Linked DNA regions of Homo sapiens: regions 2 and 3 are each linked to region 1. Evidence: fine-mapped expression QTL. A gene starts in region 1. Each other region holds a variant in brackets. All regions are shown on one strand. Distances are between the middles of the regions. Region 1 holds the start of BABAM1 (BRISC and BRCA1 A complex member 1). Region 2 overlaps UNC13A (unc-13 homolog A). Region 3 overlaps NR2F6 (nuclear receptor subfamily 2 group F member 6).

The links.
Region 2: its variant is fine-mapped to the expression of BABAM1 in putamen (GTEx, PIP above 0.99).
Region 3: its variant is fine-mapped to the expression of BABAM1 in whole blood (TOPMed, PIP 0.98).

The regions. Positions count from the first base shown.
Region 1 is chr19:17,264,890-17,269,008 of GRCh38, forward strand. BABAM1 (BRISC and BRCA1 A complex member 1) reads left to right here and starts at 2,554. Exons shown (of 9, transcript NM_014173.4): 1 at 2,554-2,638; 2 at 3,905-4,119. The coding sequence starts at 3,918. RefSeq lists enhancers at 1,604-2,063, 2,324-2,823, 2,331-3,042.
Region 2 is chr19:17,673,206-17,677,341 of GRCh38, forward strand. It overlaps UNC13A (unc-13 homolog A), which reads right to left. Exons shown (of 44, transcript NM_001080421.3): 2 at 2,807-2,836; 3 at 1,452-1,551. Among named protein-coding and RNA genes, the nearest start is that of UNC13A, 13 kb to the right of the region's middle. RefSeq lists an enhancer at 3,878-3,947. The variant G/A (reference allele first, on the strand shown) is at 2,383.
Region 3 is chr19:17,238,843-17,242,978 of GRCh38, forward strand. NR2F6 (nuclear receptor subfamily 2 group F member 6) reads right to left here. Exons shown (of 4, transcript NM_005234.4): 2 at 1,829-1,923. Among named protein-coding and RNA genes, the nearest start is that of NR2F6, 5.0 kb to the right of the region's middle. RefSeq lists a silencer at 413-591. The variant G/A (reference allele first, on the strand shown) is at 1,789.

The sequences.
Region 1 (4,119 bases):
CTGACTCCCAAGGTTTCAGCCCCTCCTCTTCTCAGCCTCCAAACTCATGGCCCTTCTAGCTCTGACTCTTGGATTTTATTTCTCAAGAGCTAGAATGGGCCGAGCACCATGGCTCACACCTGTAATCCCAGCACTCTGGGAAGCTGAGGAAGACAGATCGCTTGAGTCCAAGAGTTTAAGACAAGCCTGGGCAACATGGCGAGACCCCCGTCTTTACAAAAAATATAAAAATTAGCCAGGAGTAGTGGCGTACGCTTGTAGTCCCAGCTACTCAGGAGGCTGAGGTGGGAGGATTGCTTAACACCTGGAAGTTGAGGCTGCAGTGAGCCGTGGTCACGTCACTGCACTCCATTCTGGGTAATAAGGCAAGACCCTGTCTCAAAAAGAAAGAAAAAAAAAGAGCTAGAATGTTCCCGTGAGCTGATGGTTTTTATTTGGCTCCCCTGTGAACTTTTCTTCTCTGCCTGTCTCTTCATTGTGGGCTGACAGTTCTCTTTTTTTTGAGATGGAGTCTTGCTCTGTCGCCTAGGCTAGAGTGCAGTGGCGCAACCTTGGCTCATTGCAACCTCCACCTCCTGGGTTCAAGAAATTCTCCTGCCTCAGCCTCCCGAGTAGCTGGGATTACAAGTGCCCACCACAATGCCCAGCTAATTTTTGTATTTTTAGTAGAGACAGGGTTTCACCATGCTGACCAGGCTGGTCTCGAACTCCTGACCTCAAGTGATCTGCCAGCCTCGGCCTCCCAAAGTGCTGGGATTACAGGCGTGAGCCACCGCACCCGGCTAGGGATGGGTTTTTCCCATGTTGGCGAGGCTGGTCTTAAACTCCTGACCTCAGGTGATCCACTCACCTCAGCCTCCCAAAGTGTTGGGATTACAGGCATGAGCCACCGACCCCACCAGCCCCAGAAACATTTAAGAGCCACTTGAAGCCTCAGTTTATTTATTTATTTTATTTTATTAGATGGAATCTTGTTCTGCCACGCAGGCTGGAGTGCAGTGGTGCGATCTCGGCTCACTGCAACCTCCACCTCCTGGGTTCAAGCAATTCTTCTGCCTCAGCCTTCTGAGTAGCTGTGATTATAGGTGCGCGCCACCACACCCAGCTAATTTTTTGTATTTTTAGTAGAGACGGGGTTTCACCATATTGGCCAGGCTGATCTCTAACTCCTGACCTCGTGATCCACCCACCTCAGCCTCCCAAAATGCTGGGATTATAGGTGTGAGCCACTGCCCCCAACTCCTCAGTTGTTTTTTTTTTTTTGAGGGTCAAAGAAGCCGGCCACATTGGCCAGGCTCTAATTCGAGAATAGCCGGAGGGGCTGTGTAAGGTGAGCTTTGAAGCATAAAGAACTTGCCAGAAAAGCAACAGGAGGAACAGCATTCCAGGCAGAAGGAACTTCCTGGGCAAAGGCTTAGAGCCTTCAAAGAGCCGCTCTAGGTGACACAGCGAGACTCCATCTCAAAAAAACAAAAACAAAAACGAAAAAAAAAAACACAACAAAAACCCAGCTCTACTAAAAATACTATATATATCTCAGCCGGGCCTGGTGGTGCATGCCTGTAATCCCAGCTACTTGGGAGGCTGAGGCAGGAGAATTGCTCGATCCCTGGAGGTGGAGGTTGCAGTGAGCCGAGATTGAGCCACTGCACTCCAGCCTGGGCGACAGAGCAAGACTCTTGTCTCAAAAAAATAAAAATAAATAAATAAATACTTCTGGGGCTAAGGGGGAAGTGTGCACTAAGAAGACAACGGCAGCCTGGGCGACAGAGTGAGACTCCATCTAAAAAATAAAAATAAAAAAAAAAGGAAGGAAGCCTAGGGTAGTCTGATGCGGTGGTCCTCGCCTGTAGTCCCAGCTACTTGAGCGATCGCTTGGCTGTAGTGACTAGCCATGATCGCGTGACTGCAGTCTAGTTTGGGCGACAGAGCGATACCCTGTCTCTAAAAATAAGAAAAAAAAAAGCCATGAAAAAAGAGGTAGGCTTGAAATAGGCCCGACTTAGCTTCGCTCCACCTACAGTGACCCAATAAGACCAGAGTAAGTATTTTTTGATTCATGCAAATATATGTAAAATAAGGAACAAGAATTAAGTAATTGGGAAGGGCCCTGGATGCTCAGGCCACACCCACATGGGAATACCTGCCCCACATGGAGGCTCAGGCCAGCTCCACCAATCACCAATCAGCTCCTCCTCTTTCCCTAAATCGGCCTTCTCCGTCCCTCTTAGCCTATCACATTGCAAGCTCCACCTCTATTCCACGTTTCAGCCTATCACGGTAGAAGCACTGACTATTGTAGTCTGATTCGGCCAAAAACAAAAATTCACTAATTTTTTTAATCCAATCACATTTCATACTTTGCTCCAGTGTAGCCAATCACATTCCAGGTCCCGCCGCACCCAGCTCCAGGCAGCTCTCACTCCAAACCCCACCCCCAACCCAGTTTCAGCCTATCAGTTTCCAAGTTCTTTCTAGCCTCAACCAGTTTCTGTCTCTGCTTGTTCTGCAGCCCGCTGAACTACATTTCCCAGGAGGCGTCGGGGCTGCGCCGTACAACTTCCGGCTGTAAAGATGGCGGCTTCCTAGTGAGTCGGCGGCTGATTTAGAAGGAGGTTCAGGCTACGGTGAGCCGAAGGTGGGTGGTGAAAGCGTGTGGGGCCCGTTCCTAGGGGCCCAGCTCCCTTTGCCCCAAGAGATCCAGCTCCTCGCCTTTCCTGGGGCTTCCGCCTTTATTTCTGGTTTCTCCTGCAGTGTAGCCTCCATCCTTCTTGCTGCCGCTAAAGCCTTGTTTTTCTTAGAGGTGTGGGGACTGCAAGGCGCTCAAAGACCATCTTGGGAAGCCCGTGCCTATTTCCCAGATAGACAAACTGCTCCATTCGCGTCCTGTTTCTCTCCAAGGGGAACCACAGTACTAATATTTTGCTTCTCCCTCATGCAGACACCCGCTAGGGACGAGGGTGTCCTAGAGGTTATTATTCCCTTATTCACCAAGACATTTTCAGTTTTAGGTAACAGAAAACCCTACTCAATCTGGCTTAAGGAAGAAAAGGAAGTTGGTGGCTTATAGATTGGGTCTAACAGGAGCTGGGTCCAGGTGGTCAGAATTCGATCTGCAGTTTTCTCGGTGGAGACCATTTCGCTTTTTACCGAGGCAAAAGGGGCCCCTCACAGCTCTCAACTTTATTCTACCAGCTCTGCAACTCTAATGAGAGTCTCTTTTCCTTGATGACACTGCTAGAAGTTGCAGAGCTGCCACTCAATGGCCTGATTTGGGTCATGTGCCCATCCCTGAGCCATTTTCAGTGGCCAGAGAGCTGGGATGTGCTCACTGGCCGAGTAGGGGCATGGGGCTAGCACTACGTTAAAAAAAAAAAGAGGAAAAAAGAGGGGGGACTGTTATCTTATGTCGGAGTGGCTGCTCGGCTGAGAGGTGTAAAAGGCAGCCATTCTGCAGCTGAGGAAAGTGACTCCCTAAGAGGAGTGACTCATCATCAGTAAGCGGCTCATCGCCCCTCTTCCTTCTTAGTAACCAATCTTTTTTTTTTTTTTTTTTTTGAGACGGAGTTTCGCTCTTTTTGCCCAGGATGGAGTGCAGTGGCGGGATCTCGGCTCACCGCAGCCTCCCCTCCCGGGTTCAAGCGATTCTCCTGCCTCAGCCTCCCGAGTAGCTGGGATTATCCGCATGCGCCACCACGCCCGGCTAATTTTGTATTTTTAGTTGAGACGGGGTTTCTCCATGTTGGTCAGGCTGGTCTCGAACTTCCAACCTCAGGTGATCCACCTGCCTCGGCCTCCCAAAGTGCTGGGATTACAGGCATGAGCCACCGTGCCCGACCGTAACCAAATGTTTTTAAAACTCCAAGGGGAGGATTCTGGCTTCCCCTGTCCGTGTTCCATCTAGCCACACAGGAGCCATGGAAGTGGCAGAGCCCAGCAGCCCCACTGAAGAGGAGGAGGAGGAAGAGGAGCACTCGGCAGAGCCTCGGCCCCGCACTCGCTCCAATCCTGAAGGGGCTGAGGACCGGGCAGTAGGGGCACAGGCCAGCGTGGGCAGCCGCAGCGAGGGTGAGGGTGAGGCCGCCAGTGCTGATGATGGGAGCCTCAACACTTCAGGAG
Region 2 (4,136 bases), 410 kb after region 1:
AATTAGCCGGGCGTGGTGGTGCATGTCTGTAATTCCAGCTACTCGGGAGGCTGAGGCAGGAGAATTGCTTGAACCCAGGAGGCGGAGGTTGCGGTGAGCCGAGATCACGCCATTGCACTCCAGCCTGGGCAACAAAAGCAAAACTCAGTCTCAAAAAAAAAAAAAAAAGTATATATATATCTGATATATATATCTGTTGGCTGGGATTGGTGGCTCCTGGCTCATGCCTATAATCCCAGCACTTTGGGAGGCCGAGGCGGGTGGATCACCTGAGGTTAAAAGTTCAAGACCAGCCTGGCCAACATGGTGAAACCCGGTCTTTACTAAATACACAAAAATTAGCCGGGCATGGTGGCACGCACATGTAGTCCCAGCTACTCGGGAGGCTAAGGCAGGAGAATAGCTTGAACCCAGGAGGCAGAGGTTGCAGTGAGCCGAGATTGCACCACTACACTCCAGCCTGGGCCACAGAGTGAGGCTCTGTCTCAAAACAAAACAAAAAAAAAAGGAAAAAAATTCCATTGGCCAGGCATGGTGGCTCACATCTATAATCCCAGCACCTTGGGAGGCTGAGGTGGGCGGATCACCTGAGTCCAGGAGTTTGAGACTAGCCTGGCCACCATAGTGAAACACCATCTCTACTTAAAACACAAAAATTAGCCGGGTGTGGTGGCACACGCTTGTAATCCCAGCTAGTTGGGAGGCTGAGGCAGGAGGATCACTTGAACCTGGGAGGTGGAGGTTGAAGTGAGCCGAGATTATGCCACTGTACTCCAGCCTGGGCAACAGAGTGAGGCTCTGCCTCAAAACAAACAAACAAACAAACAAAATTGGTGGCAAGGCCTGGGAAGGCATGATGCCCTGAAATTGTAGCTTGGAGGTAGTGGTCAGGGAGGGCTTCACTGAGGAGGTGACACAAGCTGAGACCTGAAGGAGAAGAGCCAGCTGGGGACAGGAGAGCAAGTGCAAGGGCCCTGGGGCAAGAACAAGCTGGGAAGTGTTGGAGAAAGGGGCAGAGGTGGGTGTGGCTGGGGCAGGTGAGGGAGATAGAGCGAGAACCTGGTGGGAATCACGGGGAAGGCTGTGGGTTTTATTGTGAGGTCGATGAGCCACGGACAAGTTTGGAACATGGGAGCGACAGGATGTGATTTGCAGTTTTAAAAATATCCCCCTGGCTGCCTGGAGGAGAACAGATTGTAGGAGGTGGATGGCACAGGAGGCCAGGGCGGAGGCTGGCGGGCAGCAGGGACTTGGCTGGTGGCTGCGGAGACCAAGGGAAGTGATTGGATTGGGGATGTGTTTTGGAGGTGAAGGTGATAAGGTGGACAGGGGAAGAGGGAGGACAGAGGGGAGTCACCCGGGATTCCCCAGTGTCCAGCTCTGCCCTGAGGGGCCAGCGAGGTGCTGGGCTATGCCAGGGAGTGAGGTCATGCCAGACGCTGCAGACTCACAACATGAAATCCTGCTCCCAGCTGGGCTGGCTGCCCCGCACCGCGATGGTCGTGCTCTTGACATTCTGCACTTTCAGGGTCACGTACGTGTTGAATTTCTCTGTGGCAGTGAGAGTAGGGGTCAGCGCTGGGGCTCAGGGACTCTCCAATGCCCCTTCCCAAGCTCTAGACCATCTGCTGTGATCCCCTCAGGAATTTCTGGGCCACTCACCCCCTAACCCACAACCCCACCCTCAGGGCACAAGGGAGGGGCCTCAGTGTGGGGAGACGTGGAATTTTGGGATACTTCATCCAGCTGCTTCGAAATGACCATGCCATTGGTTTTCAGCTAAAAAGACTGAGGTCCCAGAAAAGGGGAACAAAATTGACTGTAAGAAACCCCCTTTGCAGGCTGGGTGCAGTGGCTCGCGCCTATAATGCCAGCACTTTGGGAGGTCAAGGGGGGAGGATTGCTTGAGCCCAGCAGTTCAAGACCAGCCTGGGCAACTTGGCAAAACCCTATCTCTACTAAAAAATACAAAAAAATAATTAGCTGGGTGCAGTGGTGCACGCCTGTGGTCCCAGCTACTTGGAAGGCTGAGGTGGGAGGATTGCTTGAGCCTGGGAGGTTGAGGCTGTAGTAAAACATGATTGCACCACGGCACTCCAGCCTCAAAAAATAAAAATTTTAAATAAAAATAATAATAATAAAAAGGCAGGGCACGGTAGCTCACGCCTGCAATCCTAGCACTTTGGGAGGCCGAGGCGGGCGGATCATTTAAGGTCAGAAGTTTGAGACCAGCCTGGCCAACATGGCGAAACCCCATCTCTACTAAAAATAAAAAAATTAGCCGGGCGTGGTAGAGGGCGCCTGTAATCCCAGCTACTTGGGAGGCTGAGGCAGGAGAATTGCTTGAACCCAGAGGCAGAGGTTGCAGTGAGCCGAGATCAC[G/A]CCACTGCACTCCAGCCTGGGCAACAGAAGGAGACTCTGTCTCAAAAAAAAAAAAAAAAGAAGAAGAAGAAAAGAAAGAAACTCCTTTCGCCTCTCTGAGCCTCATTTTTCCCACCTGTAGCCCCATCTAAGAGTCCCCATTCTACCTCTTAGGACCCTGGGAAGAGCCACTGGCTCAGGGCAAGCCCCACCCCTTACAGACTCTCCAAGGATGGCTGGGGAGACCCGGGGACCCCCATACAAACTGCAGGGACCCCAGGCCAATGGCTGCCCCTCCCCCTATTTAATCTTCTGACCCCTCTCCTGATGCTCAGAAGACATAAAGCCCAACTCTAAGTCTGGGCTGGGACCCCCTCCCAGTCTCTCCAAGAGACAGACAGACAGACAGACAACACGGGACAGGACAGCAAGAGAAGCCACTTACCTTGGGCACCATCAAACTTGGCTTTTTTGACTGTGGAGAGAGACAGAGATAGGGAAGGGAGGTGGGGAGAGATGTGGGGAGGAGGAGGCAGAGATACGGAGAGATTCAGAGACACACCAAGATGGAGACATAAGGAGAGAGACACAGAGGAGAGACAGGCAAAGATAAAAAGCAAAAGAGACAGATGTTAAAAAAGAAAGATAGAAGCAATGTCAGAGACAGAGACAAGGGGAGGAGGAGAGGTAGGAAAGAGGAGGCAGGGATGAGAGGGAGAGAGAGAAGCCATCAGACAGATGAGCACAGGCAACCCTAGAATGGAAGGAAATTTGGACCCTGAGAGCATTCCCTGCCCCTCCCTCTCCCTGCATCCCCTGTCCCCATCAAACTCCCCAAGCTCCCAACTAGCTGTGCCTTTACCCACAATTGAACAAGATTAGAAAGAAAGAGCTGGGCAGATGGTGGGAGAGGCCTCCTACAAGAAGCCCTCCAGGATTGCCCCAGAAGAAGAGGGGAAGTTGAGGAGGTGGAGAAGAAGAAGGCGAGGATAAAGACAATCTCTGATGACTCCACCAGCCCCGACAGGTCAGCAAGACCTCTCCCTTGATTGTCCAGCTCAGTCTGCAATGTCAAATGCTCCCAGGGTTTGGGGAAGCCTCAAAGAAGGCTGGGTGAGTTGGGACAAAGCAACCCAGAGAGCTGGCTCTCAAAATGCATGTGGAGGGCGAGGCACGGTGGCTCACACCTATAACCCCAGCACTTTAGGTGGCTGAAGCAGGTGGATCACCTGAGGTCAGGAGTTCAAGACCAGCCTGGCCAACATGGTGAATCCTTGTCTCTACTAAAAATACAAAAATTTGCCAGGTGTGGTGGCAGGCGCCTATAGTCTCAGCTACTTGGGAGGCTGAGGTAGGAGAATCACTTGAACCCAGGAGGCAGAGATTGCAGTGAGCCAAGATCATGCCACTGCACTCCAGCCTGGGCAGCAGAGTGAGATTCTTGTCTCAACAACAACCAAAAGTAATGTACAGGGAGACACTTGGGTCCTGGCTGGAGGGTTGACAGAGATTGTCCAGCCCCACCTGCTTGTGGGAGGTGTAACCTGAATATATGTCAGGCACCCCACTGAGGTCCAGTCTTCTCACATTTCACATAATCTCACAGCCCCAAGAGATTCAAAGCCATGTCGCCCCCTCCTGGCTCTTCTCAACAGGTATTCAGTTTCCATTGCCAACACCTCTCACACCTTGCTTTTGTCCCCCACATCTTTTTCCTCCATTAATTCTCTACTCCCACCCCCAATCTTCTCCCACACTGAGCTCTTCCCTCCCTT
Region 3 (4,136 bases), 26 kb before region 1:
GGGTCGCTTCAAGCTAGGAGTTCGAGACCAGCCTGGGCAACATAGTGGGACTCTGTCTCTAGAAAATAAAAAAAGCTGCCGGGTGGGGTGGCTCATGCCTATAATCCGAGCACTTTGGGAGGCTGAGGCGAGCGGATCACCTGGGGTCAGGAGTTGGAGACTCCAGCCTGGCCAACACGGTGAAACACCATCTCTATTAAAAATACAAAAATTAGGCCAGGCGCGGTGACTCACGCCTGTAATCCCAACACTTTGGGAGGCCGAGGCGGGCAGATCACGAGATCAGGAGATCGAGACCATCCTGGCCAACATAGTGAAACTCCATCTCTATTAAAAATACAAAAATTAGCTGGGCGTGGTGGCATGTGCCTGTAATCCCAGCTACTCAGGAGGCTGAGGCAGGAGAATCGCTTGAACCAGGGAGTCAGAGGTTGCAGTGAGCCGAGATGGCACCACAGCACTCCAGCCTGGCAACAGAGCGAGACTCTGTCTCAAAAACAAAACAAAACAAAATACAAAAATTAGGTGGGCGTGCCGGGCGCGGTGGCTTACGCCTGTAATCCCAGCACTTTGGGAGGCTGAGGCAGGCAGATCACGAGGTCAGGAGATCGAGACCATCCTGGCTAACATGGTGAAACCCCGTCTCTACTAAAAATACAAAAATATCCGGGCGAGATGGCAGGCGCCTGTAGTCCCAGCTACTCCGGAGGCTGAGGCAGGAGAATGGCGTGAACCCAGGGGGCGGAGCCTGCAGTGAGCCGAGATCATGCCACTGCACTCCAGCCTGGGCGACAGAGCAAGACTCAGTCTCAGAAAAAAAAAAAAAATTAGCTGGGCGTGTTGGCCCGTATCTGTAGTCCCAGCTACTCGGGAGGCTGAGGCAGGACAATCACTTGAACCCGGGAGGCGGAGGCTGCAGTGAGCTGAGATCACACCACTGCACTCCAGCCTGGAAGATGGAGCGAGACTCCATCTCAAATAAAAATAAAAATAAATAAAGAAAATAAGGAAAAAAAAACTTCAAAGCAGGGGAGGCTCAGGTTAGACATTAGAAAGAACTGCCAGCCTGGCCCACGACACAGTCCCCAGAGGAACCTGAAACCCAGCACAGGAGATCTCGTCCAATAGGCTAGATTCTATTCCTGAACCCCAGAAATCCATGCAGAAATCTCTGGGTTCTACTTGAATTCTAAGGGGGTTTGGCAGAGTTCTAGGCCCAGCAGCCCAGAATACGCCCGTCCACCTGGGTCCCCTGAGCAGAGACAGCTGGGCCTCACTCTTGCTCCCAGCGCCCGGGGTCAGAAGAAAGGGTAAGCTGCCCTTTGCCTTAATCGGGCAGAGTTCCTGCCTTGGGCAAACAAAAAGCATGGGTGAAGGGTGGAGGAGAAACAAATCAAATAAAAAAAAAAATCCTTGTTCAGAACGCGGTGGCCGCGCTAGCAGACAAGAGGTCACCAAGGTGTCAGGGCCAGGGAACTGGCCTCTGAGGCTGGAGTCGGGGGTAATTGGGGAAGGCAGCTCCTGCAAGAGAATGGGGCTGGGGAAAGTCCCTTGTGGGGCGTCCCTGGCCTCTTCAGCTCCACGGCAGCAACCAGGGGGCCACGGATCCTAATTGGATTCCTCCAGCCTAGGGCCAGACTGCAGCCCACGGGATCAAGGGATCAGTGGTAATGAGGTTAGCAGGCGCCGGCCCCCACCCTGTGAGGCACCCAGACCCCTGTGAAAGGGAGGGGTGAAAGGGAGGGGAAAAAGGGGAGGAAGAAGCTGTTTGTTCACCCCGGCTCCAGC[G/A]GCTGTGATCGTCCCCAGTGTGTCCCCAGCACGTACTCACCCTCCTTCCTCATGCCCACCCGGAAGCACTTCTTGAGACGGCAGTACTGGCACTGGTTCCGGTGGTGCTGGTCGATCTGGCAGTCACGGTTGGACCTGGGGGCACACAGAAGCCAGGGCTCCCTGAGACCCCCATATCCTCCTCCCCGAACCAGCCTATGAGCCGCCTTTGGAGGCTGCCCCTCAGAAATACTAGTAGGGGCCCTCTAGACTGGAGAGGTAGCCCCAAAGGGGTACAGGAGCTCAGCTTGCAGGTCTGCAAACCAGACAGGATAACCCGGATGAGTGGTGATGGATGAAGAGGAATCTGTGGAAAAGCAGATGAACACCCCAGGGAGGGCACATTGGCATGGGTTTTGAAGGATGAATAGGAGTTCTCCAGGTGAATGGCGGGGTGATCCCAGAGAGAGGGTACAGCCAGAGCAAAAGGGTTGAAATACACAAATATGGAGGCCTAAAGAGTTTCATTTTATTTGGTCACTGTCAGGCTGAGCAGGGTCATTGTCCCCAAAAAGATGTGAAGGCAAAGAGGACATGGTCAGAGAGCTGGACTTTGTGAATTAACTAGGGGTCAGGCCAGGGGCTAGTGGTCTGTGGGGTCATAGCATTGTGGGGCCCCAGCATTATCACCCGCACAATGCCCACCCCAAGGAATGAGGAAGTAAACAAAGTCACTCTGGTCCTCAGCCCTGAAGGCCCCACACCTACGCTCTTCCGAGAGGACCACCCAACCCCTATGCAAGCTGGAGATTTTCCTGGTCAGCCCTCAGTGAATGCCGTTGCCTCTTGCAGGGATGAGACAGGTGGCCCCACCCTGAGAGGTGGTGAGCTCCCCATCCTGGGTCAGCCCCCAAGCAGGAAGGTCCAGGCCTTATTCTTCAAATGTCCCCAGAACCTTCTCCCCTTGGCCCCTGCCCTTGGACTCCCCTGGTCTCTTGCCACCAGGAGCTGGGGGCTCTCCAAGGCCTGGGCCTGGAGCAACTACCCCTGGGGTTCCAGCTGGACACCCAGGGGACACACAGAGACAGTCACAGAGTAGAACCACCACTTAAGGGAATTAAACAGATGCATCTCTGCAGTGGCTCACGCCTGTAATCCCAGCACTTTGGGAGGCGGGGGAGGGTGGATCACCTGAGGTCAGTTCAAGACCAGCCTGGCCAACATGGTGAAACCCCGTCTCTACTAAAAATACAAAAATGAGCTGGGCGTGGTGGCGCATGCCTGTAATCCCAGCTACTTGGCAGGCTGAGGAAGGAGAATCGCTTGAACTGGGGAGGTGGAGGTTGCAGTGAGCCAAGATTGACCCACTGCATTCCAGCCAGGGTGACAGAGTGAGACTCTGTCTCAAAAAAAAAGAAAAAAAAAAAGGCTGGGTGCAGTGGCTCATGCCTGTAATCCCAGCACTTTGGGAGGCCGAGGCGGGCGGATCACCTGAGGTTGGGAGTTTGAGACCAGCCTGAACAACATAGAGAAAACCTGTCTCTACTAAAAATACAAAATTAGCCGGGCATGGTGGCGCATGCCTGTAATCCCAGCTATTTGGGAGGCTGAGGCAGGAGAACCGCTTGAACCCGGGAGGCAGAGGTTGCAGTGAGTTGAGATCACGCCATCGCACTCCAGCCTGGGCAACAAGAGTGAAACTCCGTCTCAAAAACAAAACAAAACAAAACAAAACAGATGAATCTCAGCTGCAGATACCCAGCCCTGCCCCTCAGGTGGCGACTGCCCCACTGAGCCTCGGTTTCCTCATCTGAAAATGGGAGGTCAGATATTGCCCTATCATATGGGATGGACTGGGTCAGAGGGGTTCACGGGGGACAGTGCCAAGACCCAGAGCCCAGCCGGAGAACCCAACTTAGGAAAGCTGAGGATCTGCGCCCACTCCCCCGTACCCCCCCTCCACCACTGCCTGGGTCCTGCAGCACCAGCCACTGAGCCCCTGGGAAGAGGCCCCACTAGGGCAGAGGGAGCTCAGGCAGAACCAGAACAAAGCCCAGCGGCTGGGTGGTGGGAGGGTCCAGGGCAGCCGGGTGGAAACGGCCTGGCCTGGGGCGGCCCTGCAGGCAGGCAGAGGCCCAGCTCAGGGGCCCCTGACCTCAGGGGAGGCCCTGAACCTTCAGTCTCAACTTCCCCAGCTGTGGAATTGGGACAGATCCATCCCTCCAAGGAGGGAAACAGTTAAGTTCTTCCTGTTATCCCACCTAAAGAGTGCAAGCTTTTTTGCCCAACCCCATGGCCCAACTCAGCTTCCTCCCTGGGCTTCTGGCCTCCAGTCCAATTTGATCAGAGCCCTCTCCTGCTCACACACC